Linked DNA regions of Homo sapiens: all the other regions are linked to region 4. The links come from fine-mapping of genetic effects on plasma protein levels. A gene starts in region 4. Each other region holds a variant in brackets. All regions are shown on one strand. Distances are from middle to middle.

Region 1 (5,000 bases), 46 kb after region 4:
ACCATTCTGCTCTCCACCTCTATGAGACCAACTTTTTCTGATTCCACATATGTGAGATCATGAGGTGTTTGCCTTTCTGTGCCTGGCTTATTTCACTTAGCATAGTATCCTCCAGCTTCATCCATGCTGACACAAATGACAGAACTCCCTTCTTTTTAAAGGCTGAATAGTATTCCATTGTATCTATGTGTCACATTTTCTTTAACTTTTCATCCATCCATGGACACGTAGGTTGATTCCATGTCTTGACCATTGTAAATAATGCTCCAATGCATATGGGAGGGAAGATATCTCTTCAATATACTGACGTCATTTCCTTTGGATGTATACCCAATAGTGGGATTGCTAGATCATATAGTTGTTCTATTTTTTGTTTTTTGAGGAACCTCCATACTGTTTTCCATAATGGCTGTACTAATTTCCATTCCCACCAACAGTGTACCAGCATTCCTTTTTCTCCCCATCATCAACACTTGTTACCTTTTGTCTTTTTGGTAATAGCCATTCTTACAGGTGTGAAGTGATATTTGGCACTTGATGGTTAGTGATGCTGAGCATTTTTTTCATATACTTTTTGGCCACTTCTATGTCTCCTTTTGAGAAGTGTCTATTCAGGTCCCACGCCCATGTATCCATTTTACTTGGATTATTTGATTGTGTGCTATTGAGATGTTTGAGTTCCTGTGTATTTTGGATTTTAACCAAAATCTTGGATCTTTTGAATATTGACCCTCATTCTGTAGGTTGTCTCTTCACTCTGTTCATTGTTTCCTTTGTCATGCAGAACCTTTTTAGTGTAATGTAACCTCATTTGTCTGTTTTTCCTTTTGTTGCCTGTGCTTTTGGGGTCATAGTCAAGAAACCATTGCCCAGACCAACATCATGAAAATTTTCCCCTATGTATTCTTGTGGTAGTTTTACCATTTCAGATCTTATGTTTTAATCTTTAGTCCATTTTGAATTAATTTTTACATATGATGTGAGATAAAGGTCTTATTTCATTCTTCTGCATGTCAATACCTACTTTTCTCAACACCATTTATTGAAGAGCTGTCCTTTCCCCATTTTGTGTTCTTGGTATCTTTCTCACAATCAATCAACTGTAAATGCATTGATTTATACCTGGGTTCACTATTTTGTTCCATCAGTTTATTTACCATTGTTGTGCCATTACCATTCAGTTTTGATTACTATACTTTTGTAACACGTTTTAAAATCAGGTAGTACGATGCCTCCATCTTTGTTCTTTTGTTTGTTTTGCTTAAGATCACTTTGGCTATTTGAGGTCTTTTGTAGTTCCATACAAATCTGGGCGTGGTGGTGCGTCGCCTATAATCCCAGCTACTCGGGAGGCTGAGGCAGAAAAATCGCTTGAACCAGGGAGTTGGAGGTTGCAGTGAGCCGAGATTGTGCCACTGCACTCCAGCCAGGTGACAGAGCAAGACTCTGTCTCAAAAAAAAAAAAAAAGACACATGAATATACATAACAGTCAGGATGTCCTGATGGGAACCATGAAGAATAGTTAAGTGACAGGAGATAGACAAGGTTGGTGGGGCCTCTCGGGGATGGTGATTTGGGCTGATATTTAAAGTTGGACAGGGCCAGTCTTGCAGAGAGCCAGGAAGAGTGCTCTTGAGAAGGCCCTGAAGGAATGAGAACCCCAGGTTTCGGGGGCTTGGGGAGACTGAGCGAAGACAGGGGGCCACTGTGGTGAGTGGACAGCAAACAGGTCAGGTGGACCAGCATGGGCAGATCACATGTACAGTAGGTTGGATGTTATTTTGTGAGTGACGGCGTAAAAAAAGTAAAATATCTCAATGATGTGTATTGATTACATGTTGAAATGTAGTATTTCAGATATTTTAGGTTAAAACTATATTGTTAAAATTAATTTGGCCTCATTCTTTTTACTATTTTAATATGGCTCTCATAGAATTTGAATTTTGCATAGAATTTGAATTTTGTATTATATTTCTGTCAGCAGTGCCAGTCAAAGGTATGTAATAGATGCTGAATGGATGACAAGACCAAGCCTGGAAGAGTGGATTTCTCTGTCTCAATTCCAGTGAGGGCCAAAAAAGAAGTTTCCCCACCACTGTCAGCCTCTGGGAATTCTGTGGTGACTCATTCATTGGCTTTTCTCTTCCTTCCCAGGATCTCATAGATCAGAACATACTGGAGCCTGTAACCC[G/A]TGCACAGAGGGTGTGGATTACACCAACGCTTCCAACAATGAACCTTCTTGCTTCCCATGTACAGTTTGTAAATCAGGTACAGAATGTGTGGACCTCTTGTCCAGAGGTGGAGCGTGGGGCAATGAGGTGGGAGTTGTAGCCGATATGAGTCAGGGAACCAAGTTCCAGCCCAACCTGGTCTTCATCACCCTGTTCTATGATTATATATTTGACTGATTAAAAAAATAGAAAGAAATCTTTTCTATAATGCATGCCACCTGGCTGGGAAATCGTCTAAACTGTCAGCTGCAAGAGGGTGGGGGGATCATTAGAGCATAGAGAAGGCCTGGCCCAGTGGACAGGGCTAGGTTTCAGTAGTGGCACGGGTCTGCTCCAGGGCCAGGCTCTCTCCCCCAGGCTCTGTGCTCCTGGCAGGTGCTCGGCCTCACTCAGCCTTCAGGTTCTCAGGCCCCTTCCTCCTCCCCAGCAGGCCCAGGCTTTGGGGAAGTCCCCCAAGGCCTCCGTCTCCTTGCAGAGTCTCTCAGGTGATGCCCTTGCACCTCCCTTGCTACTGACCATGCCATCTAAACAATGCTTTTCCCCTAATCTGATGTAATAAATAATGAATTATGCTCCTTTTTATGACTCCTCTGAGTGCTGGTGACAGCTGAAGGGTGGGTGTCCTGTATGAGCCCTGAGTGTGCTGGTGCAGAAACTGGCCCTTAGAACTCCTTGGTGAACTTGGTTGAGCTGAGTGGGAGGGGGTGGGTGGTAAGGAAGATCGAGGGATACATCAGGGAAACACATTCCCAAAACCTTATGCTCTGTTGTCAGATCAAAAACATAAAAGTTCCTGCACCATGACCAGAGACACAGTGTGTCAGTGTAAAGAAGGCACCTTCCGGAATGAAAACTCCCCAGAGATGTGCCGGAAGTGTAGCAGGTGAGACAGCAGTCAGGGGCTCCTGACAGCTTTCAGGAACCCGAGAAGACCTGAGTCACCTGGTACCCCTATTTCTCCGCTGACCCTATGGAGCCTCCAGACCCATGGGGTGTCCCTGAGCCTGTGGGGTCTCTTGGGTCTGCAGTGGCCGCTCCTGGTCCATCTGCCTGTCCCCACCCCTACCCCCTGCAGCAGCCCCTTCCCAGACCCTCCCCAGCACGAGTCCCCTTGGCCAGACCAACTTGTTCACTGGGCACAAGAAGCAACTTTCTGGATCCCTTGATCCTTTTCAGCAAACCTAGGAAATGCGATTTCCTTTTGAAATGAGAAGAAAACACTTGAATCCAGTCTGGGTTGTATTTGTTGCTATACCAAGCTGTTTTAAAAAATGTTCTTTTTAATATTTTTTATGCAGGCAGGACCCATAAAGACAAAAGTGGTCACGGCCGACAAAAGTCATAAGAAGGCTGTGGGTGGAGCTCCTTCAAGTTCCCATGAAGGCCTGAGCCAATCCAGCCGGCCTCACCCCTGGCCCCAATCCCTCAATAAGTCCTGTCTTTTCCCTATTTGGGCTTTAAGGGCCAAGAGTAATTTGTTCTTCTCTGGCCCCCTAATGTTTGCCGTGATAGGGAGGAACCAGCAGACAGTTGGGGGTGAGAGATCACTTGTACTGTGGGTTGACTGGAGGAAGGGGCTCAGCTTGTGGCCACAAGGGCTCGTGACCTTCCCCTGGAGTGTGGCTCCTCCTAACGCAGGCCTCCTCTGCAGCCCAGGGAAGCTCAGTGTGTGCCCGGCACAGAAGGCTCCTGTGGCCCCAGAGCAGGGAGGCTGAGGGGCTGAAATGCGCATGCTCAGACCCTTCCCCAGCCTCAACGAGGGAACTTGGGGGACCCCCTCCAGACAGGAGCCTGTCCTTCCCCTGACACCTTCTCAGGGACATTGGAGAGGGAGGGTGGCTCCCCTTTTATCCCACCTGGCTAGCTTTCCCTCAGGAGTCCTCACCTCCCTCTCTGTGTGTACCCAGGTGCCCTAGTGGGGAAGTCCAAGTCAGTAATTGTACGTCCTGGGATGATATCCAGTGTGTTGAAGAATTTGGTGCCAATGCCACTGTGGAAACCCCAGCTGCTGAAGAGACAATGAACACCAGCCCGGGGACTCCTGCCCCAGCTGCTGAAGAGACAATGAACACCAGCCCGGGGACTCCTGCCCCAGCTGCTGAAGAGACAATGACCACCAGCCCGGGGACTCCTGCCCCAGCTGCTGAAGAGACAATGACCACCAGCCCGGGGACTCCTGCCCCAGCTGCTGAAGAGACAATGATCACCAGCCCGGGGACTCCTGCCTCTTCTCATTACCTCTCATGCACCATCGTAGGGATCATAGTTCTAATTGTGCTTCTGATTGTGTTTGTTTGAAAGACTTCACTGTGGAAGAAATTCCTTCCTTACCTGAAAGGTTCAGGTAGGCGCTGGCTGAGGGCGGGGGGCGCTGGACACTCTCTGCCCTGCCTCCCTCTGCTGTGTTCCCACAGACAGAAACGCCTGCCCCTGCCCCAAGTCCTGGTGTCTCCAGCCTGGCTCTATCTTCCTCCTTGTGATCGTCCCATCCCCACATCCCGTGCACCCCCCAGGACCCTGGTCTCATCAGTCCCTCTCCTGGAGCTGGGGGTCCACACATCTCCCAGCCAAGTCCAAGAGGGCAGGGCCAGTTCCTCCCATCTTCAGGCCCAGCCAGGCAGGGGGCAGTCGGCTCCTCAACTGGGTGACAAGGGTGAGGATGAGAAGTGGTCACGGGATTTATTCAGCCTTGGTCAGAGCAGAACACAGAGATTTTCCGTGTGTTGGTTTTTACTCTAGTTCCCCTTCTCATCCCCCTTCCTCAGGGT
Region 2 (6,114 bases), 80 kb before region 4:
ATCTAAGAAGCAGATGTTCAGGGTGAAACAGTGAAAGGGAGGCACTGCGTCACAGGCGTAATCTATAGCAATAGCGGTTTAAATGAATCTCCTTTGTGCTCAAACAGCGTATCTTTAACTTATCGGAGAGGAGCTAGTGGGAGTGTGCTTAACTAGGAGGCTGCACGTCTGTCCACATTCCAATGCTTCAAAGGAGTGTCTTTCTCCTTGAACACAGTGTTTATAGATAAGAGAGCAGGTCTCGCTCTGAGCATGGGAACATGATGGCAATTAGGAGGCTTTCCTCCTCAGAGGCCTCTTGTGGCTTTCCACAACTTATTGTCCCATATTTTTATGGCCAGTTTATGCAGGCGCCCCACAAGCCCTTTTCCCAACAGGGAGGAAGGTGCGATGGAGGGCTGGAAGCATGCTTTTCCGGCATTCCCTATAGAACATTCCCAGCCAGACCTGCCTGATGAGAAGGCAGAGGATTGACCAGACCTCAGGGTGTGTCTTCACAGGCACTCCAATGCCCCTGACCTGGCCAGCCGTTCCTCTGCCTGGAGTCACTCTTCGGGCTGGAGTTACATGTAAGGGCATTGTTTCTAGAACCCACTCAGGCTCTCCCCTGGCCTACCCACCAGTGCACCCACAGGAGTCAGCCCAGCAGGCGGCACAAAGCCCTTCTCAACAGAGGTGCTAGCAGGCGCAGGAGCAAGGCTGGGACCCCTCAAGCCTGGGAAGCTGGAAGGGGGAAGCAGGTCAAGGACAGTTAAGTAAGAGATGGGAAAAGTAGTTGCCTTCCAGAGGAGTGGAGAACCAGGGGGCCTCTGCCAGTGACTGCAGCGAACATCAGAGACCCATGGGAGGGAACACTGCAAGGACGGTGGACTTCTCTCTCTCTCTCTCTCTCTCTCTCTCTTTCGTATTTAACTGATGAGGCACTTGGTAAGGGGTTGCCAGGGAATGGGTTGCTGGAAATGAATCCAGGTCTTCGATTCCCAGCCCAGTGCATTGCTTTTTTTTTTTTTTTTTTTTTTTCTGGGAGACAGGGTCTCACTCTTTTCGCCCAGGTGTGCAGTGCCTCACTGCAGCTGCAGCCTCAACTTCCTGCGCTCAGATGATTCTCCCACCTCAGCCTCCTGGATAACTGGGACTACAGTCATGGGCTACCATGCCTGGCTAATTTTTTGTAGAGACGGGGTTTTGCTGTGTTGCCCAGGCTGGTCTTGAACTACTGGACTCAAAGTATCCACCCACTTCAGCCTCCCAAAGTGCTGGGATTACAGGCATGAGCCACCACGCCTGGCCCCCAGTGCATTGTTATGGCAATTTTCTTTCTCTCTTCCCTTCTCCAGAATTCTATCCAGGGCCAACCCGTCAAAACATATTGAAAATGGAGAGAAAACAGAGCTCAAGTAATTTGGAGTGACATGGAGGCATGATCACCTCAGTATAAAGGTCCTTAGCATCCCAAATCAGGAGCTATCAAACCTATAGGACTCACAAAAAGGTAAACTAAGGTCCAGAAATCCACTCCAAGAAGCATAATGGCCAGTCTAGATTTTACACTAGATCAGTCCTGCTTCACATGTCTCCCGGCTGGCCAGCCCCGGATGTCCGGCCACTGTGAGCCGATAGCTTTTCTGCTGTTTGTTTTCTACCTGTGTGCAGGTGAGCAGAAGTAGGAGCAAAGCCTCCTCCCATCAACCAGCAACCACCCCTACCTTGCTTCTTCGTGGCCTTCCCTCTCCCCACCTTCCATGGCCTCTAGCTCAGGTAGCCAGAATTAATTACTGGTGGGGTTGAAGCCATAACTTGTTCCCTGGCTGTAGGCCAGGCTCTCAAGATGTGCGTCAGAAAGGCCAGTGAGTGAAATTCCAAAGCAGTGTGAGTCACCAGGGGCTGAGAAGAACAGGCCAGGACAATAAGAGCAGGATGTGGACCAAAATAGTGCCCTGAGGGCCAGGGGCTGGGCCAGGCATCAAGAATGCTCACCTGGCCAAAGATGGGGAACAGGGCCTCCGGTCTAGGTGGTTTATCTCTGTGCTCTGCACAGCCCTGGACGGGGAACAAAGCCTCTGGCCCAGGGTTTATCTCTGGGCTTTGCACAGCCCTGGAGGAGGAGGGAACTGACCAGCAGGCCGGCCCCCTGGTCACAGGAATCATGTCCTTCACCTGCCTTCCCATAAGCTGGACTTTGGATCCCAGCCCTTAAAACCCTTGTGTTGTTTCTTCCTGCAGACCTGGTCGAGAACACTACTTCAGGACAGGGAATAGTGACAGGCCAGCAGAGCCCCAGAGGCGAGGTGGCAGGTAAGTCTACAATCCTTGGGCCCTTGCTCTGTGCCCAGGGAAAAGAGAGGGATCTCCAAGCCCTGGCTTCTCTAACCTATCTTCACCTGGTCACTCACAGCACTGCACAATTTCCAGTTCTCAGAATCAGATTTCTTCCAAAGGAGGGATGTGTGAAGGGAGCACGAGGGGTGGGGGCAATCAGCAATCAGGAATCTTCCCCATCAAGGTGCGGTGGCCCCTGGACTGTGGCCCAGCAGCAACCTGTGGCAGCCAGATCTGGGGCAGGAGGTGGAGGGCTTCCACTCGTCATGAGGGTGTCCAGGGGGAGTGTCACCAGTCGCCATGTGCCAGCGGCAGGCCTGGATGCCACTCTCTCCTTGTGACCCTGGCCAGGACGGAACGGAAGGCCCCCAAGATCAAGTAGATGACACTGCACCCCACCCCCCACAACCCACTGAATCCTATCCATCCAGAGGGGTCACTGGCCAAGGGGAACACAGGAACAGCTTGTGATAAAGGGCCGCCTAGGCCCTCATGCCCACTCTATCTCCTGCCCCTCCCCAACTGAAGGCTGCTCTCCAGCATCTCTGTTGTCCTGCTCCTTCCCCTTTTTTTTTTTTTTTTTTTTTTTTGAGATGGAGTCTCACTCTGTCACCCAGGTTGGAGTGCAATGGCGCAATCTCGGCCCACTGCAAACTCCGCCTCCCGAATTCAAGTGATTCTCCTGCCTTAGCCTCCCATGTAGCTGGGATTACAGGGGCCTGCCACCATGCCTGGCTAATTTTTTTGTTTTTTTAATAGAGACAGGGTTTCAGCATATTGGCCACACTGGTTTCGAACTCCTGACCTCAAGTGACC[C/T]GCCCACCTCGGCCTCCCAAAGTGTTGGGATTACAGGCGTGAGCCACCGCACCTGACCTCCTTCCCCCTTTTCTTACTACTCACTCCCACGTCCTGGGTGGCCCATTCATGGCTCCACCCAACTCTGGGAGCTCCCCATCCTTCAGGCAGCAGGATCCATTTATCAAGAGAAACTGAGCAGCATCCCTAATCCTCTCCCTCTCTTGCCCTCAGCCCCCCAAATTTTGTTCCTTTCTGTAGCCACACTTGGCCAGGAGCTCTCAGGCTTACTGTAGGAATTCCTTCCAGGGCAACAGAGACCCCCAACCACTCCCCCACCCACAACCCAGCCAGGCTGCTGTCACTTCCTCGCAAAGGAGTAGCTGAATGGGTCACCCTGGCTTTTGGAAGGGTTGGGGCTGAGACAGATGCTAGCGAGGCTATGATAACTCAGACAAGGGGCTGAGGCTGATAGCCTCCACCGACACAGGTGGAGAAGGGCACGGGCTCTGCAGAAGTGGCAGCTTGGCTGATTTGGGCCCTCTTACCTCACCATGTAAGGATCTTGCTGGCCCTGTTAAGTTCACCTTTGCCTCAGACTGTAAGTTAAAGAACTTTGTATCTTCTCCCTCTTCCCTGACCTCTAGAGGAAACTCATCTGTAACTGCTAAGACCTGTCAGTTCCTCTGATGGCCATCTCTATCAATACACGCATACTTTCCTTCAATTGAGTTAAAAGTCACGTGCCTTGAAGCAAGAAAACATTTCCACTTTCTTTTTTTTGAGACTGAGTCTCTCTGTGTCGCCCAGGCTGGAGTGCAGTGGCACTATCTTGGCTCACTACAACCTCTGCCTCCTGGGTTCAAGCAATTCTCCTGCCTCAGCCTCCCAAGTAGCTGGGATTACAGGTGCATGCCACCACGCCTGGGTAATTTTTGTGTTTTTAGTAGAGACAGGGTTTCATCATGTTGGCCAGGCTGGTCTTGAGTTCCTGGCCTCAAGCAATCCACCAGCCTTGGTCTCCCAAGTGTTGGGATTACAGGCATAAGCCATGCATCTGGCCGCATTTCAACATTCTTAACTCCCTACTGGGCAAGGATTGTTCCCCGGGGTGCTTGTGGATGTGGCAGGGCTCCAGGTCTAGTTTCAGCTGAGCCATTCCTGCCTCTCTGTTCTGTCTCCCTAACATGTCTTAGGCTAACATCATACAATCAGAATTTCAGAACTTGGGGATCATCTAAGGAAACTGCCTAGGTTCAGGCAAGCAAGAGGAAACTGAAGGCCAGAGGTAAAAGCTGGCATCAGAACCACAGCGCTGGGGTCTGACACAACTGCAAACTAGCCGTGACTTTGCGTAGGCCTCAGTTTGCTCATCTGTAAGATAAAGAGGGTGATTTTGACATACATTAAGCATAACGTGCTAGGGCAAGAGGCCTCAGGGCTGTGCTGTGCGTCTGTCTCCCCAAGAGGCTCTGAGCCAGACGCCTGATGAGAACCCTCATCCTGCCTGCCTGCTTTGCAGCCCTGGCAAGTCACATCCCCTCTCAGAGCTCCAGTTTCCTTCTCTGCCAAATGCGGATAAGAATAGTTCCTCCATCTCATAGGATTGTTTTGAAATTTAAATGAGGTAGTACATGCAGCACAATCCCGGGCATGTAATAAACATTCAGTAAGTTATTATTAGTATTAGTATTATTAGACTTAAGCTCCTTGATGACATGATAGCATATCATCATTTTATCATCCTCACCATCTCTTGCACAGGGTGTGGCACTAGCGAGAGCTTAACATGCATTTGATAAATGAAAAAAAGAAAGGATAAACGAAGGAAGGACCAAACAAGTCTCATATTTTTCAGAGAAAAGGGGGACCCAGGTTAAGCAAGGGGACTTGGGGTGCTGTACAGGCAGGTCAGGTGTATTTTGGCCCAGAAGGGCTGCTGGTGCACCCGTGCCACCTTCGCCCTCCACACCCCCAGCACCCCACCTTGCAGGCCTGCAGCTGGGAGGCAGCCTGCAGGCAGGACATCTTGGCTGGACCTTGGACTTGATACCTCCTAGTCCCCGGCTCTCTGGGCCTCAGTTCTGCATCTGTGAAGGGGCGGCCGCTGTGAGGCTTTGCAGAGGTGGCAGCGCGTCAGTCCACTCTAGGGAGACTCTCCCCTCCAGCCAGGCTTCCACCAGCAGCCCAGGCTCCCAGGGGGCTCTCTGTTGGCACCTCCCAGAAGGAGGAGGAAGAGGGTGGGTTGGGAGGAAGATCATGTGACCTAGAGTGAATGTTTCCAGGCAAGTGGTAAGCCACAGACAACCAGAAGGTTGAGGCGTGTGTTTAGTGGCTTTTGAGGCACCCTGAACCGTGTGTCCAATGGGCAGTACAGCAGCAGCCTGTGGCCCCCGCCGCTCAACCCAGGCCCCCGCATCCCAGGCCATCTGGGGTCCAGCCTGTTCCACAGAAGGCTTCTAGCTCAGCATCGGCTTCTTGCCTCTCCAGTCCCTGCATCAGCTGCCTATGGTCTGGCCTGCTTGCCTGCCTCCCCCGACCTCAATTCATGCCTTGTGGAGGGGTCAGAGGCTGTGTCGGGGGGAATAGCCATGTCCTGCAGCGCAGTGCTTTGGCTGTGACAAGTCAGACTGGACACTTGGTTTTCTCCACCCAAGTCCTTTCCCTCTTCTTAGCTTAAAATTTGTCACTCTGGGAGGGGGTGGGATTCCCGTGGGTGAGCTCAGAGGTAGCTGCTAACTTGGGCTGATGGGAGCCTGAGAGAGGGCTGTGGGTCCGGAGAAGGCCAAAGCAATGCAGCTGCCCTGTGGGCTTCTCATCACTGTCAGCACCTCAGGAAACTTCTGGCCGGCTTTCCCTGCCCTCGTCCATCCAGGGCCCATCCAGCCTTGTATACTTCCCACCAGGGTCCCTGGGGTCCTGGCCGTCCCAGCCTGCTAATCTGTGAGCTGTACAAGCCAGGGCCATGTGCATTTATTTTTACAGAAATCTCTGCTCAGG
Region 3 (6,114 bases), 25 kb before region 4:
GTGAGTGAAAATGGTACATGCCAAGAAATAAACTAAAGTTTTTTCAAAAGGTGATAAGGGAGGAACAAAATATATATAAGACATAAAGAAAACAAATAACTGAAGAGCAGAAACAAATCTTTTCTTGTCAATAACTATGTTAATTGAAAATAGTTTAAACTCTGCAATTAAAAGGCAGAGAGTGGCAGAATGAGTAAAAACAAACGCAAAAAATAGACCATAATCACCTATATGCTAGCCACAAGATTCCTGAATTATTTTTATTAATATTGAAAGACATTCTAAAAAATCCAAATTACACAAACCTTACTTAATAATGTAAGTATCATACATAATCATAGTGATTCATGTCACTGATAAAAACGTGATTATTTAATAATAGTGTTGGGGCAACCAAAAAGGTGGCTGTCAAATAATAATGTGTCTTCCTCACTCTCCTCTTACTACAAAATGAAGTCCATGTGGCTCAATGACTTAATTACAAAATAGGAAACCACAAAATGACTGCAAAGATATATGATAATTTTTTTTTTGTTGTTTTTTTTTTTTGAGACAGGGTCTCACTCTGTCACCCAGGCTGAAGTGCAATGGCGTGATCTCAGCTCACTGCAACCTCTGCCTCCCGGGTTCAAGCGATTCTCCTGCCTCAGCCTCCCAAGTAGCTGGGACTACAGGCACGCCACTATACCCAGCTAATGTTTGTATTTTTAGTAGAAACAGGGTTTCGCCATGTTGGTCAGGCTGGTGTCAAACTCCTGGCCTCAAGTGATTTGCCCACCTTGGCCTCTCGAAGTGCTGGGATTACAGGTGTGAGTCACTGCGCCCGGCGTTATATGGGAATTTTTATTAGAATTTTGGACCCAGCGCAGTGGCTCACGCCTGTAATCCCAACACTTTGGAAGGCCGAGGTGAGAGGATCGCTTGAGCCCAAGTGGTTGAGGCTACAGTGAGCTATGATCCTGCCACCGCACTCCAGCCTGGGCAACAGAGTGAAATCCTATCTCAATCAGTCAATCAATCAATCAATCAATGTATAATTTCCCTAATCTGTAAGAATTCATGTGACTCAATGATTTAAAAAAAAAAAAAAAAAAAACCTAACCTCTTACTAGGAGTGAAGAAAACCTAGGAGAACCAGTGTACAAACAGTGTCTGTGTCATGAACAGATTCTTGACCTCATTCACAGGAAGAGAAATGCACATTTCGAGGAGTTTCCACATCTCAGTCCTTGACACTTGCTATGGCCTGCTCCCTGTGGCTGGAAGGGCCATCTCTCCTCTAGGATGGAAGTTCTCCAACTGCTCCTGCTCAGCCCATTGCAGTCCTGTCTCCCTGGCCTATCGTCTCCAACTTCAAATCCTCATGGGCTCAGTTGTGCCCCTCCTCAGTATTTACAACTTCTTCCAGGTGGACACACTCAAGACAGCGGCTTCAAGCATCACCTATGTGCTAGGGTCCCCAAATGTGTACTGCTAGCCCTGCCACACACTGTCCCCTCAGAGGCCAAGTTACCCTGAGCAGTTGAATTTGGTGCCTCGATTGTCCTCATTCCCCACACGTCATCCATCCACACCCCAAATATGTCTTGAGTCCTTCCTATTCCCGTCCTGCTTCCTGGTCTTGACCCTGGACCACAGCAATAGGAGCATTTACAGATGAGTTTGTGTCTGCTTCACGCTGGGTTCTTCCTTCTCCATGCTCTGCTCCTGGCAAGCCCACATGTGCAATGTGAGGGTTTGCCCTCAGGCAAGCCTTTCCTGTGGCCCTTAGTCATGGAAAAGAAATGCAACTTTGTAAATGGATTTTAAAAGCCACTGCTTGCCACACTTGCCTGCCCTGGAAACCTTCATGCAGCAATCAATTCCTAACTCATACACATGGGGGAAAAGGGGGAAGAAGTGCGAGGCGAACACAACAGTCAAGCACACTTCAGGCCAGGTTCCTGCTGCATCTCTGGGGGCTCAAATGACCTTACGGGACACCACATAACATCCCAGGGGAGCGCCTCACACTCAAGGCCCTCCACCTGCTTCCTGTCTTGCTCCGGTTCAGTCCAGGAGTGGGCACTCAAGATGTACATCCGATGCTGGTGGCCCTCTGCTGAAAACTTCTCAGGGACATCCATCACTCATGAAATAAAATCCAGCTTCATCTGTGTGGGATCTGACCCCACGTGTCTCTCTAACTTCCTAACCCTCCACTCCCCACAGCAGCCCCCTGCTGTTGCTCCATCTTCTCCAACTCTTGCCCCCTGGCAATTGTTCCAGTGGAACCCTCCTAGGAGCACTCTTCCTGGCTCTCTGAACCTCTGGCCCTGCCCTCCTCCGGATGTCAGCCCAAAGTCACCATTGCCTGGAGGCCTCACCAGCCCCATCTCTGTCCCACTCAATTCTCTCTCAAGGTTCCTATCAGTTTCTTTGGCTGTCTCATTCATTTGTGTGTCTTGATACCATCCTAGCAGGAAGGCTCCAGAAGGACAGAGCCTTGAACTGGAGGCACCCAATGCCTCTCTGTGGAATAAAGAACAAGGAAGTGCAAAGGAAACAGACTGGAAGCTCATGGAGACAAGGGGAGGAGGGGCAAGGATTAGAGACCCATCTTGAACATACCAGGTGGACACAATCCCTCTGAGGGGCTGGACCTCTTTTGTTGTGGGGCC[G/A]CTCTCTGCTGGGGAGCTAGGTCTTGTTGGGTGATCAGAGCAGACTCAGCTGAGACCTGTGGGGACAAAGCAGGGATGGGCATGAGTGGCTTCCAGACCTCACCCCTCCCAGGATCCACTCACATTCTCTTGAGCCCAGGCACCCAAGCTAAACAGAACCCTCATCTTTCTTGCAGCTCTCACCTCTCAAACATCCTTTAGTGTTTGTTTGTCCCTTCATATTTCAGGGAAGGCCAAGTAACATACACCTGCAAAACTCTTCTAAACATGTTCATTCCAGAAAATGTGGGCAAGGAAAGTTTTTACAAGAATACACAGACCACACGTGATATTCTCAGCTAAAGATAGCATCCATTAATATTTTGTCTCATTTAGTTCCACTATTTTTCCATAGGTATGCCTATTCTCTCTTTCTCTCTTTCTCTTATTCTCTCTCACACAGACATACACACAGACACACATTTTTATAAATGGGGGTTATAATATAGCAAACTTAAAAAATTGGGATACAGGATCAAACATTAAATAGTGAACTTCTGATTTAAAAGGTGCCTGACATATAGACCAGAGAGCCCAGAAATGAACTTGCACGTACAACCATGTATTGCTCAACATTGTTCTGAGCAAAGGGTCATTAGGCAATTGTGTTGTGTGAACATCAGAAGAGTGTACTTACACAAACCTAGATGGTGTATCCTATGACACACCTGGCCTATATGGTATAGCCTTTTGCTCCTAGGCTACAAACCTGTGTAGCATGTTACATAATTGCATGGAGCCACCATCACATATGCAGTCTGTTGTTGACAGAAATGTTGTTATGTGGTGCATGACTGTATATGATCAAGTAATTTTTGGCAAAGGTATAAAGACCATTTAATTGAGAGGACAATCTTTTTAAAAATGGTCTTGGGAAATCTAGACATTGACTCATCACAAAACAATGACCTCGGACCTTTAACTTACACGTATACAAAAATTAACTCAAAATGGATCCAAAATCTAACATAAAAGTGAAAACCCTAAAACTTAGAAGAAAACATAGGAACTATTCTTCCTGACCTTGGATTTGGCAATGATTTCTTGAATGTGATCCCCAAAACACAAGCAATATAGGAAAAAAAGTAGATAAATTGCACTATGTAAAAATTAAAAACTTTTGTGCATCCAATGATGATCAACAGTGAAGGGGCAACCCACAGGAAGAGGAAAACATTTGCTAGTTGTATATCTGATAAAAGGTTAATATCTAAAATATATAAAAAACTCCAACTCAACAACAACAACAAAAAGCCAACAATGTGATTAAGAAATGAACAAAGAACTTGAATGGTAACAAGCTCCTGAATAGCCAATGTGTCAAAGAGGAAATCAAAAGGGAATTTTAAGAGTATATTAGAAAATGAAATGGAAACATAACATAACCAAATGTATGGGATGCAGCAAAAGCAGTTTTAAGAGGAAATGGCAATAAACGCCTACATCAAAAAAGAAGAAAGATCTCAAATACAAGACTTAATGTTGTACCTCAAGGAAATAGAAGAAAAGATACACTAAGCCCACAGTTAGCAGAACAAAAGAAATAATAAAAATCAGAGCAAAAATAAATAGAGACTGAAAAAAATACAAAAGATTATCAAAATTCTGTTAGTTTTTTGAAAAAATAAATGAAATCACTAAACTTTAACTAGACTAACTAAGAAAAAAGAAAGAAGACAAATAAATTAAATCAAAAATGAATGAGGAGGCCAGGTGCAGTGGCTCATGCCTATAATCCCAGCATTTTGGGAGGCCGAGACGGATGGATCACTTGAGGCCAGGAGTTGGAGACCAGCCTGGCCAACATGGCAAAACCTCGTCCCTAATAAAATACAAAAAAAAAAAAAAAAAAAAAAAGCCAGGCATGGAGGTGTGCATCTGTAATCCCAGCTACTTGGGTGGCTGGGGCACAAAAATCACTTGAACCTGGGAGGTGAAAGTGGCAGTAAGCTGAGATTGTCACACTGCACTCCAGCCTGGGCAACAGAGGGAGACTCTGTCTCAAATAAAAAAAAAAATGAGACACATTACAATGCATACCACAGAAATGCAAAGGATCATATGAAAATATTATGAACAATTATATGCCAAAGGATTGAACCACCCGGAAGAAATGGATAAATTTCTAGACACATACAACCTACCAATACTGAATCATGAAGAAATGGAAAATCCGAACAGACCAATAATGATTAAGGATATTGAATCAGTAATGAAAAGTCTCCTATCAAAGAAACACCCAGGACCCAGAAGGCTTCACTGCTGAATTCAGCAAAACATTTAAACAAGAACTAAAACCAATCCTTTCTAAACTTTCCCAAATAAATTACAGAGGAGGGACTACTTCCAAACTTATTTTACAAGGCTTGCATTACCTTGATACCAAAGCCAGAATAGAACACTGTAAGAAAAGAAAATTATAGGCCAATATCTCTAATAAACACAGATGCAAAAATCTTCAATAAAATACCAGTAGACCAAATTCAATAGCTCATTAAAAGAATCATTGACCATGATAAAATGGAATTTGTTCCTGGGATGCAAAGATGGTTCAACATATGAAAATCAATAAATGTGATATACCATATTAACAAAATGCAGGACAAAAACAATATGATCACCTCATTAGATGTAGAAAAAGCATTTGACAAAACACAACATTCTTTCATGATAAAAACTCTAATCAAATTAGGTGTAAAGGGAATGTATCAACACAAAAAAAGCCTTATATGACAAGCTTACAGCTAATATCATACTCAGCAGTGAAAAGCTGAAAGCTTTTCCTTTAATATCAGGAACAACACAAGGATGCTCACTCTCACCACCTCTTTTCAACATGGTACTGGAAGTCCTAGCCAGAGCAATTAGGCAAGAAAAAGAAAAGAATTATTAGGTATTCAAATAGAAAAGGAAGAAGTAAAATTGTCTATTTGCCGATGACATGATCTTCTGTATAGAAAACCCTGAAGACTCCACCAAAAAACTGTTAGAAATTTGTAAACAAATTCAGTAAGGTTGTGGGATACAAAATCAACATATGAAAATCAGTAGCATTTCTATATATTAATAATGAACTATATGAAACAGACATTAAGAAAACAAACCTATTAAGAGCAATGACAAAAAAAAATTAGTAAATTTAACTAAGGAAGTGAAAGACCTGTATGTTAAAAACCGTAAAACACTAATGAACAAAACAGAAGAGACAAATAAAACGGAAAGAGACACAAATGCATGAAAATAAATGTTCATGACTTGGAAGAACTAATATTGTTAAAATGTCCATACTATCCAAAGCAATCTATAGGCTCAATGTAATCACTATCAAAATTCCAATATCATTTTTCATAGAAATAGAGAAAACAATCCTAAAATTCATATGCAACCATAAAAAAAAAAAAAAAAAAACACAAAT
Region 4 (6,114 bases):
ACACAGTGATGTTCGGTACCCAAGAAAGCAAAATTCACAATGTCAAGCAATAAGAAATTACTATGCATGAAAAAAAAAGTCCCTATGGGCAGGAAAAAAAATGTAATCAACAGAAACAGTGGCCGTAATAACAGATATAATGGTGTTGATAGATTAAATAACTTAAAACAGGTCATCTAAAGCTTACAAATATACTCAAGAATATTTAAAAAACAGAAAAACAAAAAACACCACCACCAAAATCATAGGTTGCGCACGGTGGCTCAGGCCTGTAATCCCAATACTTTGGGAGGACAAGGTGGGAGGATTCCTTGAGCGCAGGAGTTTGAGACCAGCCTGGGCAACATGGTGAAACCCCGTCTCTACTAAAAATACAAAAATTAGCCAGGTGTGGTTGCAAGTGCCTGTGGTCCCAGCTACTTGGGAGGCCGAGGTGGGAGGATCACTTGAGCCCAAGAGGTTGAGGCTGCAGTGAACTCTGACTGTGCCACTGCACTCCAGCCTGGGTGACAGAGTAAGACCCTGTCTCAAAAAAGAAAAACACAAAGATGACCAGGAAATAGATGGAAGATATTAAAAATGCCAAAAGAGAACTTCTAAAGTTCAAAAAATATATATCTGATATACAGTAGATGAGATTAACAGCAGGTTAGATTCTGCAGAAGCAGATCAATGAACTTGAAGAGCCCTCACAGGGAAATGTCCAAAGTGAAACATAGAAAATGATGGGGGAAAAAAAAGAACAGATACTAAGTTAGCTCTGATACAAAATCTAACATTCTAACGTAAATATAATAAGATCTCAGTCACCAGAAGAGACAGAGTATTTGAAGAAATAATGGCTGAAAATCTTCCAAGTAGAACATAAACTCGGCTGGGCGTGGTGGCTCACCCCTGTAATCCCAGCATTTTGGGAGGCTGAGGCGGGCAGATCACGAGCCAGACCATCCTGGCTAACACGGTGAAACCCCGTCTCTACTAAAAATACAAAAAGTTCGCTGGGCGTGGTGGTGCATGCCTGTAGTCCCAGCTACACGGGATGCTGAGGCAGGAGAATGGCGTGAACCCAGGAGGCAGAGGTTGCAGTGAGCTGAGATCCCACCACTGCACTCCAGCCTAGGCGACAGAGGCAAGACTCCATCTCAAAACAAACAAACAAACAAACAAAAACATAAACTCTAAAACCCCAAATCCAAGAAATTCAACATAACTCTGTTGTGGCTTTCTTTCTTTCTTTTTTTTGAGTTGGAGTCTTGCTCTTGTCTCCCAGGCTGGAGTGCAGTGGCGCCATCTCTGCTCACTGCAACTTCTGCCTCCCAGGTTCAAGTGATTCTCCTGCCTCAACCTCCCAAGTAGCTGGGATTGCAGGTGCCCACCACCACACCCAGCTAATTTTGTATTTTTAGTAGAGACGGGGTTTCACCATGTTGGTCAGGCTGGTCTCGAATCCCTGACCTCATGTGATCTGCCCGCCTCGGCCTCCCAAAGTGCTGGGATTACAGGCATGAGCTACCAGACCCGGCTGTTGTGGCTTTCTTTACAGAAAAGTCTCCAAGGAGAACATAAACTCTAAAACCCCAAATCCAAGAAATTCAACACAACCCAGTTGTGGCTTTCTTTACAGAAAAATCTTCCAAGTAGAAAGAACATGAAAGTCTAAAGCCAAAAATCCAAAAAATTCTTTATAGAGATAAAAAAAAAACCCCACAACAGAGCAAACAAACCAAATCACTGCAAACCAGTGCTAAGAAAAATCTTTAAAAGCAGCCAGAGACCAAAGATCCACCACCCAAAGAGAGGCAAGATGCCCTGGGGACCTAGGCCCACAGAAACCACAGCAGGAGGGGGAGGCAGAGGCCCCTGTACACTCTCCTCACTAGGACAGTTAGGTCCTCCCTCCACTCAGAGGTGAGACCAAGGACATACTGTGGTGTGGGGCGGAAACAGTGAAAACATGAGGTGTGTAACAATATCCCATGAAACTCCAATGCTTCACACTGACATTCTTCTAGGTCAACACCAGCATTCTCTTGACCTTCCTTTCACTGTTCCTCCTCTCCCTTCCAGCCCCTCTGTACAGTCTTGAGTTAGGTCTAGGCCCACACACTTCCCCACTCTGAGCTGCGGTCTCTTCCTCTGTAAAATGTGATGATTCAGAACCTCTCCTGGCCCCAAGCGCAGTTCCAGGCGCTGAGCACACCATGCTGTTCCCTACAAAGCCGACTCTTTGTCCCTTCCCCATTATCACGGATACTTGCCAAGAGGTGGCAAGAAAGGCTCTTCCCAGGCCAAAATGCAGCTGCTATTATCAAGCAGGTCAGGCCCCAAGTGCCACAACTCCCTTCTCCTAAATCTCGTTTTCCCAAGGAACCCCAAACAATGGCATTGGCGATGAGCGGCCCCGCACGCGTAGGGGCGCAGCCGCTAAGGAGGGGAAGGGGCCTCTCCAGCTGCGCCCGCGACGACTCCCGCGCACGGAACGGAACCACTGGGCCGCAGCGACCACAGGGGAGTTCTTCGCCGGCCGCAGGTTCAAAGCGATCTGCAATGAGCGCCTTTAGGAATTCATTCGAAGGCGCAAAAGAAAAAGAAATTAAGGCAGGAACTGAGCGAGGAAGGAAGGGAGGGAAAGAAAGGAAGAAAGAGAAAAAGAGAAAGAAACAGAAAGTAAGGAAAGAAAACAAAATCAAAGTCCGACGACCTCTCCGTGGCTTCACGCAGCTTACTCGGGAATTCCCTCCTTGTCGCCCTCCCCCACTGGATTCGGGAATTTACACCAAGTGGAGCGCGCGCTCTGTTCCCTGGCGGCCCAGGTCGCTCCTGCCCAACCCGGGGACCCATCTCTTCCCCCGACTCCGACGACTGGTGCGTCTTGCCCGGACATGCCCGGCCGCAGGCGACCCGGGCCACGCACCCCCGCCGTGTCCCCCTCTCTCCCTGCCCTCTCCAGGCGCCAGGCACGCTCTTCCCCAGCCAGGGACCGCGGCGGGGACTCACCAACAGCAGGACCGCGGCGACAACGAGCACAAGGGTCTTGGGGACCCGGGGCCCAGGCCTGGCTCCCCGCGCCTCCCTGGGTCCTGGGCCGTGCCTTTTCCGGGCCCCCGAAGCGGCCGGGGCGTTCTGTCCCCGTTGTTCCATGGCGGTAGGGAACGCTCTTATAGTCTCTCAGGCCCGTGGGTTTCAGCCCTTAAAGTAGATCGGGCATCGTCGGTGTATTTTGTGGGCGCAGAGATTGCGGGGTTCTCCGGCCGCGTGCTGATTTATGTGTCCAGGCTGACTTGGGGCGGCGCGGCTGTACTTTCACTGCCTCCGGGCAGGCGTCATTCGGGGCGGGGCGAATCAGATCCAATGTGCAACTGCAAATTCCACCACAGGTTGGTGACAATAAATAAGAGTCTCGTCAACGCAATCCTCCGCAAGCGCGTCCAAGTGGGGAGGGGAGGGGAAGGGACCGGAACTAACCTTCGCCCTGGCGGCTGCGCCCCGGGCTGTGGTTTGTTTCTGGGTCCTGTCCGCGCCAGGACAGGCACCGAAACTTGGGGGAAATGAGTTGAGGGAGGCACTTGGGGAGTTGACGCCTCCCGGGGTCGCGCGCTTGGCTGTGAACAGGGTCTTGAGGTTCAGAGTCCGCTTTCCAGGCGCGTCTTGATCTTCTCCCCTTCCCAGGGGCACCTGCCCCTTCTGTTCTCTCCTTCTCTCTTCTTTCCTTTTTTCTTTCGTTTTCTTTCGTTCTTTCGTCTTCTTTCCGTCCTTCCTGCTTTCTCTTTCCTTCCTTTCTCTCTTTCTCTTTCCTCCCTCCCTCCCCCTCCCCCTACCTCCCTTCCTTGTGGTTTATTTTTTGAGACAGTCTCTCTGTGGCTCAGATTGGTGAGCGGTGGTGTGATCCCGGCTCACTGCAACTTCCGTCTCCCAGGTTCAAGCGATACTCCCACCTCAGCCTCCCATGTAGCTGGGACTACAGGCCTGCACCACCACGCCTGGCTAATTTTTGTATTTTTAGTAGACACAGGGGTTCACTATGTTGGCCAAAAGACCATCGAACCCAGCTTACACTCACACCTAGTCCACAAATGTGCCTGTGTCCCTGCACCCTTGCTACACTTAGCTTTCATTTGTCACTAGTCTAGGAAATAAAACATGATACATCACATTGTTATGTATTTTCATTCCTTCATGGTACTGTGTCCGGAATTGGTGGGTTCTTGGTCTCACTGCCTTCAAGAATGAAGCCTCGGACCCTCGCGGTGAGTGTTACAGTTCTTAAAGGCGGCGTGTCTGGAGTTTGTTCCTTCTGATGTTCGGATGTGTTCGGAGTTTCTTCCTTCTGGTGGGTTCGTGGTCTCACTGGCTCAGGAGTGAAGCTGCAGACCTTCCCAGTGAGTGTTACAGCTCTTAAGGCAGTGGGTCTGGAGTTGTTCTTTCCTCCTGGTGGGCTCGTGGTCTCGCTGGCTTCAAGAGTGAAGCTGCAGACCTTCAAGGTGAGTGTTACAGCTCATAAAGGCAGTGTGGACCCAAAGAGTGAGCAGTAGCAAGATTTATTGCAGAGGGAAAGAAGGAAGCTTCCACAGTGTTACCACTGCTGGCTCTGGCAGCCTGCTTTTATTCTCTTATCTGGCCCCACCCACACCCTGCTGATTGGTAGAGCGGAGTGGTCTGTTTTGACAGGGCGCTGATTGGTGGTTTACAATCCCTGAGCTAGACACAAATGTTCTCCACTTCCCCACCAGATTAGCTAGATACAGAGTGTGGACACAAAGGTTCTCCAAGGCCCCACCAGACTAGCTAGATACAGAGTGTCAATTGGTGCATTCACAAACCCTGAGCTAGACACACGGTGCTGATTGGTGTGTTTACAAAACTTGAGCTAGATACACAGTGCCAATTGGTGTATTTACAATCCCTTAGCTAAACATAAAGGTTCTCCACGTCCCCACCAGACTCAGGAGCCCAGGTGTCGTCACCCAGTGGATCCCGCACCGGGGTTGCAGGTGGAGCTGCCTGCCAGTCCCGCGCCGTGCTCCCGCGCCGTGCGCCCGCACTCCTCAGCCCTTGGGTGGTCGATGGGACTGGGCGCCCTGGAGCAGGGGGAGGTGCTCGTCGGGGAGGCTCCGGCTGCACAGGAGCCCACGGAGGGGGTGAGAGGCTCAGGCATGGCGGTCCCGAGCCCTGCCCGTCGGGAAGGCAGCTAAGGCCCGGCGAGAAATCAAGCGCAGCGCCAGTGGGCCGGCACTGCTGGGGGACCCAGTACACCCTCCGCAGCCGCTGGCCCGGGTGCTAAACCCCTCATTGCCCGGGGCCGGCAGGGCCGGCCGGCTGCTCCGAGTGCAGGGCCCGCCGAGCCCACGCCCACCCGGAACTCCAGCTGGCCCGCAAGTGCCGCGCGCGCAGCCCCGGTTCCCGCTCGCGCCTCTCCCTCCACACCTCCGTGCAAGCTGAGGGAGCGGGCTCCAGCCTTGGCCAGCCCAGAAAAGGGCTCCCACAGTGCAGCGGTGGGCTGAAGGGCTCCTCAAGTGCCGCCAAAGTGGGAGCCCAGGCAGAGGAGGCGCCGAGAGCGAGCGAGGGCTGTTGAGGACTGCCAGCAAGCTGTCACCTCTCAGTACTACGGATTTTCAAGAATACAGGAGTTTTTGGTACTGGGAGTAGATGACTGGGGGGATCCAGGCAAGACTACAGGGGAGGGCGGCAGAGAAGACTTAATTCCCAGCTGTGTACTTGGAAAACCGTGCTCAGCTGGGGCCAGTCCCTGCCAACCGCCATGCCTGTTAATGGAAATAAGGTCTCCATCCTCAGGCTGTCAGGGTGACTTCAGATGAGCCTGGAGCTGAGCTCAGTTCCGGACCCCAGGTCCTGGCTCTGTCAATGCCGGACTGGTCCAATCTCTATGCCAGGTCCTTCCAACCCCATCCCTCTCTTTATCAAAGTAGGAATCAAGAAGATCCGAAGGCTCAGGCTCTCAGGTTGTTAGAGAGTACTGAAATTGGAGGCTGTGGATGGCTGGGCCCTGCCGTGCTCCCGGTCCAGCTCTGACTCTGGTATGGCCCCAGCTCCTTCCTGTAAAATGAGGGGATAAAAATCTTCAGCAGCCCTGTGTAAACTTCTGCAGGCTCTGTT
Region 5 (5,947 bases), 45 kb before region 4:
ACCAACATGGTGAAACCCCGTCTCTACTAAAAATACAAAAATTAGCCAGGCGTGGTGGCGGGTGCCTGCAATCCCAGCTACTCCGGAGGCTGAGGCACGAGAATCGCTTGAACCCAGGAGGCGGAGGTTGCACTGAGCCAAGATCGTACCGTTGCACTCCAGCCTGGGCGAGAGAGTGAGATTCTGTCTCAAAAAAATTAAAAATAAAAGAAAAATCTTAAACACTGATAAGGCTGACACTCTAGATGCATCTTCTAGGAAGGCCTCTGTGGAAGGGACAAGGGACCTGGGACCGGACTGGCACCTTCTGAGCCCTGAGGCTGAGCGTCCTGCACAGAAGGCCCAGCAAAGGCAAAGACCAGGAGGCAGCAGCACCCTGTGCCTTCCAGAAGTGCAGGGGACAACGCGTGGGATGCCAGATGGAAGTGGGAGAGGATGGAAGTGCAAAGACCAGAAAGGTCACCCCCCACTCCTAAAACTCCACAGACACAACAGTCTGAATGTGTGATCTTCAGGCAATTCTAACTTTGTCCCACCCAAACCAGTCCCGGAACAAAACACACAATGCCTTGAGACAGAAAAGACCAAAAACTCCTGGAATGACTACCTGCATAAATGATCCTTCCATGACTGAAATACTATGGAGAAGGGTTTGCTGGAAAGAGGCTGAAATGGTTACTGAGGTCTTAAAACAATAATAGAACAGGACACAAGAAGAAAACCTTAATGCGTCAGCCATTCTAGGTCCTGTTGCCACAGTGTTTAAGAATTGACATTTCTGAGATGAGTCAGATGCTTACAGAGCGGCCAAGGTCCTCAAGTAGGCAATCTGTACCCTAAAAGGCAGCTCATGGGCTCAGGGTGACAGATAACCAGAAGTGAGCCGGGCCATCTACTCCTGAGATGGCAACCATTTCACACCATTCTCAAGCACCATCTACTCTTCCCCCTTGATGCCATGGCAGACGTGGGAGACAGATTTTGTCTTCTATCTCCTGAGCCCAAACAGGGCTCAAGTTCACTTGGGATATGACATAGACCCTATTGTTATGTGTGATCTAACCCATCTGCCTCTGTCCCAGCCTGTCCATAGATGGGGGCTATGGGTGCAAATGAGACTGCCCAGGTAGGGACCAGCCACACACAGGACTTCACGTGGATCCAGTTCTCTTTGGTCCCGACTCATATGTAAACAACTACCTATAAATAATACTCATATACTTGTAAGGTTGTCCAGTTCAAAAGACTGGCCCCTGTAGAAGTTGCCAATCATTGAAGCCAAAGTACATCTGAGGGAGGGCTGGAACCCAGACAGTGACATCTTACAGGGGACTTCTTCTTCTTCCCCCATTGTATGTCTCCTCCTTTTATGTTTATCTAATCTATTCACATAACTATGTAAACAAGTACATTTACTAAAGTTTCTTCATGTTCATAAAATAATAACATACAGAATTATAAAAGTAGAAAGGTAAGGCCAAGCATGGGGGCTCACGCCTCTAATTCCACCGCTTTGGGAGTCTGAGGTGGGCAGACTGCTTGAGTCCAGGAATTCGAGACCACCCTGAGCAACATAGAGAGCCCCTATATCTAGACAAAATACAAAAAATTAGCCGGGCGTGGTGGTGCACACCTGTGGTCCCAGCTATTTGGATGGCTGAGGTGGGAGAATCGCTTGAGCCTGAGAGGTCAAGGCTATAGTGAGCCAAGATTGCACCA[T/C]TGCACTCCAGCCTGGGAGACAGAGTGAACTGCCCCGCACCCCCCACCCAAAAAAGGTTCATATCATATAGTATCAAGTGAAGTCGGACAACGACTGTGTAGATGGATCTTACAATGTAGCCCAAATAAATAAATAAAGCATTTACATTAGGATAAAAAAGTGCTGTGAAAACAATGACATCCCAAACCAAATCTCAAAGTACGCACAAACGGAATGATCCAGACATTTCCATAGTGTCCTTATTATCACATTCAGCTTATAAAAATAATGCCAAGTGCAGTGAAAAGTTACAGGATGTTCCATCCACTGGGTGATGTTGGATGGGAGAGTTTCTTCCAGTACCGGTCATGTGACAATTGTGGCACTTTCCTACTGACTGGAGTCCAGTTGGGCTTTTTCCAGAAAAAAGGTAAACCAGGGAAGGTCTGACTTCCTGAAGAGAATCACACTTAGGACATGGCAGAGTCTGCATTACCTTCTAGATACATGAACTTTCCAGAGCTCAACAAGTGGTCCTCAATCTTCTGCTTGGCAAGTCTCTCTCCCAGCGTCTCCAAGGCATCCAGCAGGGTGTGGACAGAGGCATCTCGCCCGGTTTTGTTGACCCACTTTATCAGCATCGTGTACAAGGTGTCCCTGTGGCCCGCTGCCTCAGCTTTAGCCACCTTTATCTCATTGTCCATGAGGCCCAACTTCCTCATGAGCGGCTCCCAGGAGTCAAAGGGCACCAAGTCTGCAAAGTCATCGAAGCACTGTCTCAGAGCTGGTGGAGAAAGCCACAGAGACAGCCAGGTGAGTTGGGACTCAGAAAGGGCAGAGGATTCCACATCAGGCCCAGAACCCAAGGCGGGGAACCTGGAGAGCCCCGTGTGCGGGCAAACCTGCCGCTCCAGTGCCCACCCGCTTCCCATCCACAGAGAGCGCGCCCACACTGCCTGGCCTCCCCCACACGCAAGGCACTGCGGGGAGTCAAAGTCGTCAGAGAATCAGCCCTCATACAGGGCTGAGAACCCACCAGGGGAGTATGGATGGACGTTACAGAGGCAGAAAGTAAAGTGCGTGAGAGTCCGAGGGAGGGAGAGACAGTGGCTGCAGCGGGAGCTTAGAGGAGGGAGGAGGCTGCCTGGGCTGCGCTTGTCATGGGAGCAGGTCCCAGGGCGGCCACTTCTGCATCTGTGGAAAGCACAGGGCCTGGGACAGGGGACCTCTGTTTTCACCCAGCTCGGCCTCACTTCCTGGGGCTGGGGCAGAGCTAGGTGGAGGCAAACAGACTCTGAGCAAGAAGTGAACCCAAAGACCGAGCAATGCTGCCCAGATCTCGGGACGATGAGGGATTAAATGAGACGTGTGTGCAACATGATGCACCTCGCCGTCCTCAGAGATAGACAGGGTCAGGAACACGAGGCTATGTTTTCCAACAGCCTTATTTTAAAGAACATCAGAAACAAGTGACATTCATTTTAATGTATGGTACTGAATATATTTAAAATATAATTTAATATACAATCAATATACAAAAATTATGAGTGAAATATTTTCCACTCTTTTTTGCATTAAGTCTTTGGCATTCGTATGTAGTTTACACAACAGCTCTGCAAATTGGGCTGAGGCACAGGTCAAGAGCTCCTTAGCCCACTGGGGTTAGTGGTGCTGTGCAGGACAGGCCAGCCCCTCAGGAGGTCCTCAGGGGCAGGCGGGGGCTACATCAGGCCCTGAACAAAGGAGGAGAGAGGATGAGGGGACGGACAGAGTCATTAGGGTCAATGATAGGGTGCAGAGAGGATGAGGTAGAGTGGGGAGAAGAGATGGGAGAAGACAGTTTAGGGTCCAGATGGTCTATAGCACAGGACCCACGGCTTCCAGCATGGAATACTCTGGAAGAGCCCTCTGACCTCTGGGGACAGCAGTTAGGACCCTGTCCCTATTCCCTCCATTCCTGCTGCATCTCCAGGAGCAAAACACTTACTCTCAGTGGGATCACCTTCATTTGCTGGAACCAGCAGCCTCCTCCTCTGAGACCTTTCAGCTTCTGCCGGTTCCTGTAACACATAGTGGGGAATGTCCTGGTCAGAGCCAGGAGTCCTACAGTCCAGTACTGACCCCGACCACCAGCCAGCTCTGAGACCTGCAGCACGTCACTTCCAGAACATTGTTCTGAAAGGTCTGGCAACAAGACAGGAGACAAAGGGGCAAGACTCTCGGAAGGAGGCCGATACAGCAGTCAATATTTTAGATTAGGAGTGTATATTTTTAAAACCCCAAGGTTTAATTTGTAATACTCAAAAGTGAATATGTCTTGATGATTTTTTTTTTTTTCGAGACAGAGTCTCACTCCGTCTCCCAGGCTGGAGTGCAATAGTGCGATCTTGGCTCACTGCAACCTCCACCTCTGGGTTCAAGAGATTCTCCTGCCTCAGCCTCCCAAGTAGCTGGGATTACAGGTGTGCACCACCATGCCCAGCTAATTATTTTATCGTATTTTTATATTTTTAGTAGAGACAGGGTTTCACCATGTTGGCCAGGCTAGTCTCAAACTCCTTACCTCAGATGATCCATCCGCCTCGGCCTCCCAAAGTGCTGGGATTACAGGCGTGAGCCACTGCACCTAGCCCTGATGAATGTTAAACCACATAGCAGAGGCCAGGCATGGTGGCTCACACCTGTAATCCCAGCACTCTGGGAGGCTGAGGTGTGAAGACTGCTTGAGCCCAGGAGTTTGAGACCAGCCTAGGCGACATAGCGAGATCCTGTTTCTAAAAATAAAATAAAATAAAATAAAATAAGCTGGGTGTAGTGGCACAAAACTGTCGTCCGAGCTACTCAGAAGCCGGTAAGTCCGAGCTTACTTGGCCTTAGAAGGTCAAGGCTGCAGTGAGCCATGATTGTACCACTGCACTCCAGCCTGGGTGACAAGAGTGAGACCCATCTCAGAAAGAAAGAAAAGAAAAGTAGCAGCAGACATAATAAATTAGAAAATGGACTTACAAGAAGACCCAAAATGCAAAGAAACAGCTTTGATGAGGAATAGGAAAAATTTATCTGAAATAAACTCCCAAATCTCGATTGAGTCATAATAGAACACTTGACTTGAAATATTATCTTCTTTGATAATAAAATTGAATGTTGAAAGGATGTCAATCATTCCTAGAACCATGTATTAATTTAAATTAATATTTGTAAAGTCTAGTGACTATGTGGGCGGGAGGGGTACTAGAGAAAATCTTATAATTCTAAATTTTATCTAATTCTAAATTATAAGATGTGTAAAAATAATTTTGAAAACATATTTGCTGTCTAAGATATTAAAACATATTAGACAGTTTTGTTTGGTGTTGTACATGATATAATCCTTTTCATGTCAATACCACATAAATACATATGCATTTATGTACCTAGATGGTATATGCATAAAGAGTTTAGCAAAGAATCACAAGAAATTATCCACTGTAGTTACCTGAAATAAGAAGGGCCAAAAGGCTGGGAAAGAGTAAAGAAGGCTCTTGGTATGATCAAGTTTTTTCATACTCTGGTGGATGTGTGGCTATGGGTGACCTGCTTTCAAAAAATGATCAGGCCAGGCATGGTGGCTCATGCTTGTAATCCCAGCATTTTGGGAGGCCAAGGAGGGTGGATTGCCTGAGTTCAGGAGTTCGAGACCAGCCTAGGCAACATGACCAAACCTCGTCTCTACAAAAAATACAAAACTTAGCTGGGCACGGTGGCACATGCCTATAGTTCCAGCTACTCAGGAAGCTGAGGTGAGAGGATGACATGAGCCCAGGAGGCAGGGGTTGCAATGAGCCAAGATGGTGCCACTGCACTCCAGCCCAGGTGATAGAGCAAGATCCTGTCTCAAAAAAAAAAATCTTCAAAGTCATTAATAAGCATGGAGGAAGTATTGGCATTGTTCATTTGTTTCCTTTTAAAATCTCTTCTCTTTATTTAAAAAGAAAGTGGTACAGATGCAAGGAAGAAACAGAAACAGTCTAGGTGGAAGAGATCTCTGCCCATATAAACATTTGACATTTTCAAGGATAAGATCTAGTTTTTTTTTGTTTGTTTGTTTTTTTAAAAAAGAGTGAAGAGGAAGAGAGAAAAAAGTAAACATTTGACATGTAGCAAAGGAGGTGGCAAAAGGGCAAAGGCAAGGGAAAAAGGAAGAATTGGTTGCTAAATGGGCTTGGAAGAAGGAAACAGAGACTCAGAATAATTCAGGGAGTTTCTCAG

Direction of the effects. Positions count from the first base shown, and alleles are read on the strand shown. Strength reflects both the effect of a copy and how common the allele is. Not every link is listed here.
As copies of G replace A in region 1, the plasma level of the protein whose gene starts at base 3,278 in region 4 goes up (moderate association).
With allele T in place of C in region 2, the plasma level of the protein whose gene starts at base 3,278 in region 4 is higher (weak association).
In carriers of allele A in region 3, the plasma level of the protein whose gene starts at base 3,278 in region 4 tends to be lower than with G alone (weak association).

What was found. PIP is the chance, under the fine-mapping model, that this variant and not a neighbour inherited with it causes the effect. Protein levels are from antibody-based Olink assays in UK Biobank. Linkage for the fine-mapping came from a reference panel and not from the study's own genotypes, which makes the PIPs less certain.
Region 1: its variant is fine-mapped to the plasma level of the TNFRSF10B protein (UK Biobank, PIP above 0.99).
Region 2: its variant is fine-mapped to the plasma level of the TNFRSF10B protein (UK Biobank, PIP above 0.99).
Region 3: its variant is fine-mapped to the plasma level of the TNFRSF10B protein (UK Biobank, PIP above 0.99). The variant lies in the coding sequence of TNFRSF10B. If it changes the protein, the assay may bind it differently, which can mimic a change of level.
Region 5: its variant is fine-mapped to the plasma level of the TNFRSF10B protein (UK Biobank, PIP above 0.99).

Annotation. Positions count from the first base shown.
Region 1 is chr8:23,112,502-23,117,501 of GRCh38, forward strand. TNFRSF10C (TNF receptor superfamily member 10c) reads left to right here. Exons shown (of 5, transcript NM_003841.5): 3 at 2,156-2,269; 4 at 3,007-3,115; 5 at 4,140-4,944. The coding sequence ends at 4,530. Among named protein-coding and RNA genes, the nearest start is that of TNFRSF10C, 12 kb to the left of the region's middle. The variant G/A (reference allele first, on the strand shown) is at 2,193.
Region 2 is chr8:22,985,269-22,991,382 of GRCh38, forward strand. The region is part of intron 1 of RHOBTB2-AS1 (RHOBTB2 antisense RNA 1); the gene reads right to left. It also overlaps a transcript of RHOBTB2 not described here. Among named protein-coding and RNA genes, the nearest start is that of RHOBTB2, 11 kb to the right of the region's middle. RefSeq lists an enhancer at 2,424-3,180. The variant C/T (reference allele first, on the strand shown) is at 3,136.
Region 3 is chr8:23,040,528-23,046,641 of GRCh38, forward strand. It overlaps TNFRSF10B (TNF receptor superfamily member 10b), which reads right to left. Exons shown (of 9, transcript NM_003842.5): 2 at 2,611-2,716. Among named protein-coding and RNA genes, the nearest start is that of TNFRSF10B, 25 kb to the right of the region's middle. The variant G/A (reference allele first, on the strand shown) is at 2,661.
Region 4 is chr8:23,065,754-23,071,867 of GRCh38, forward strand. It overlaps TNFRSF10B (TNF receptor superfamily member 10b), which reads right to left and starts at 3,278. Exons shown (of 9, transcript NM_003842.5): 1 at 2,998-3,278. The coding sequence starts at 3,141. It also overlaps the pseudogene TNFRSF10B-AS1. RefSeq lists promoters at 657-4,370, 3,138-3,808, enhancers at 2,662-2,921, 3,462-3,511, 3,532-3,701, 4,483-4,777, 5,099-5,598 and a cis regulatory region at 3,263-3,268.
Region 5 is chr8:23,020,502-23,026,448 of GRCh38, forward strand. It overlaps TNFRSF10B (TNF receptor superfamily member 10b), which reads right to left. Exons shown (of 9, transcript NM_003842.5): 8 at 3,687-3,759; 9 at 1-2,483. The coding sequence ends at 2,170. Among named protein-coding and RNA genes, the nearest start is that of RHOBTB2-AS1, 24 kb to the left of the region's middle. The variant T/C (reference allele first, on the strand shown) is at 1,720.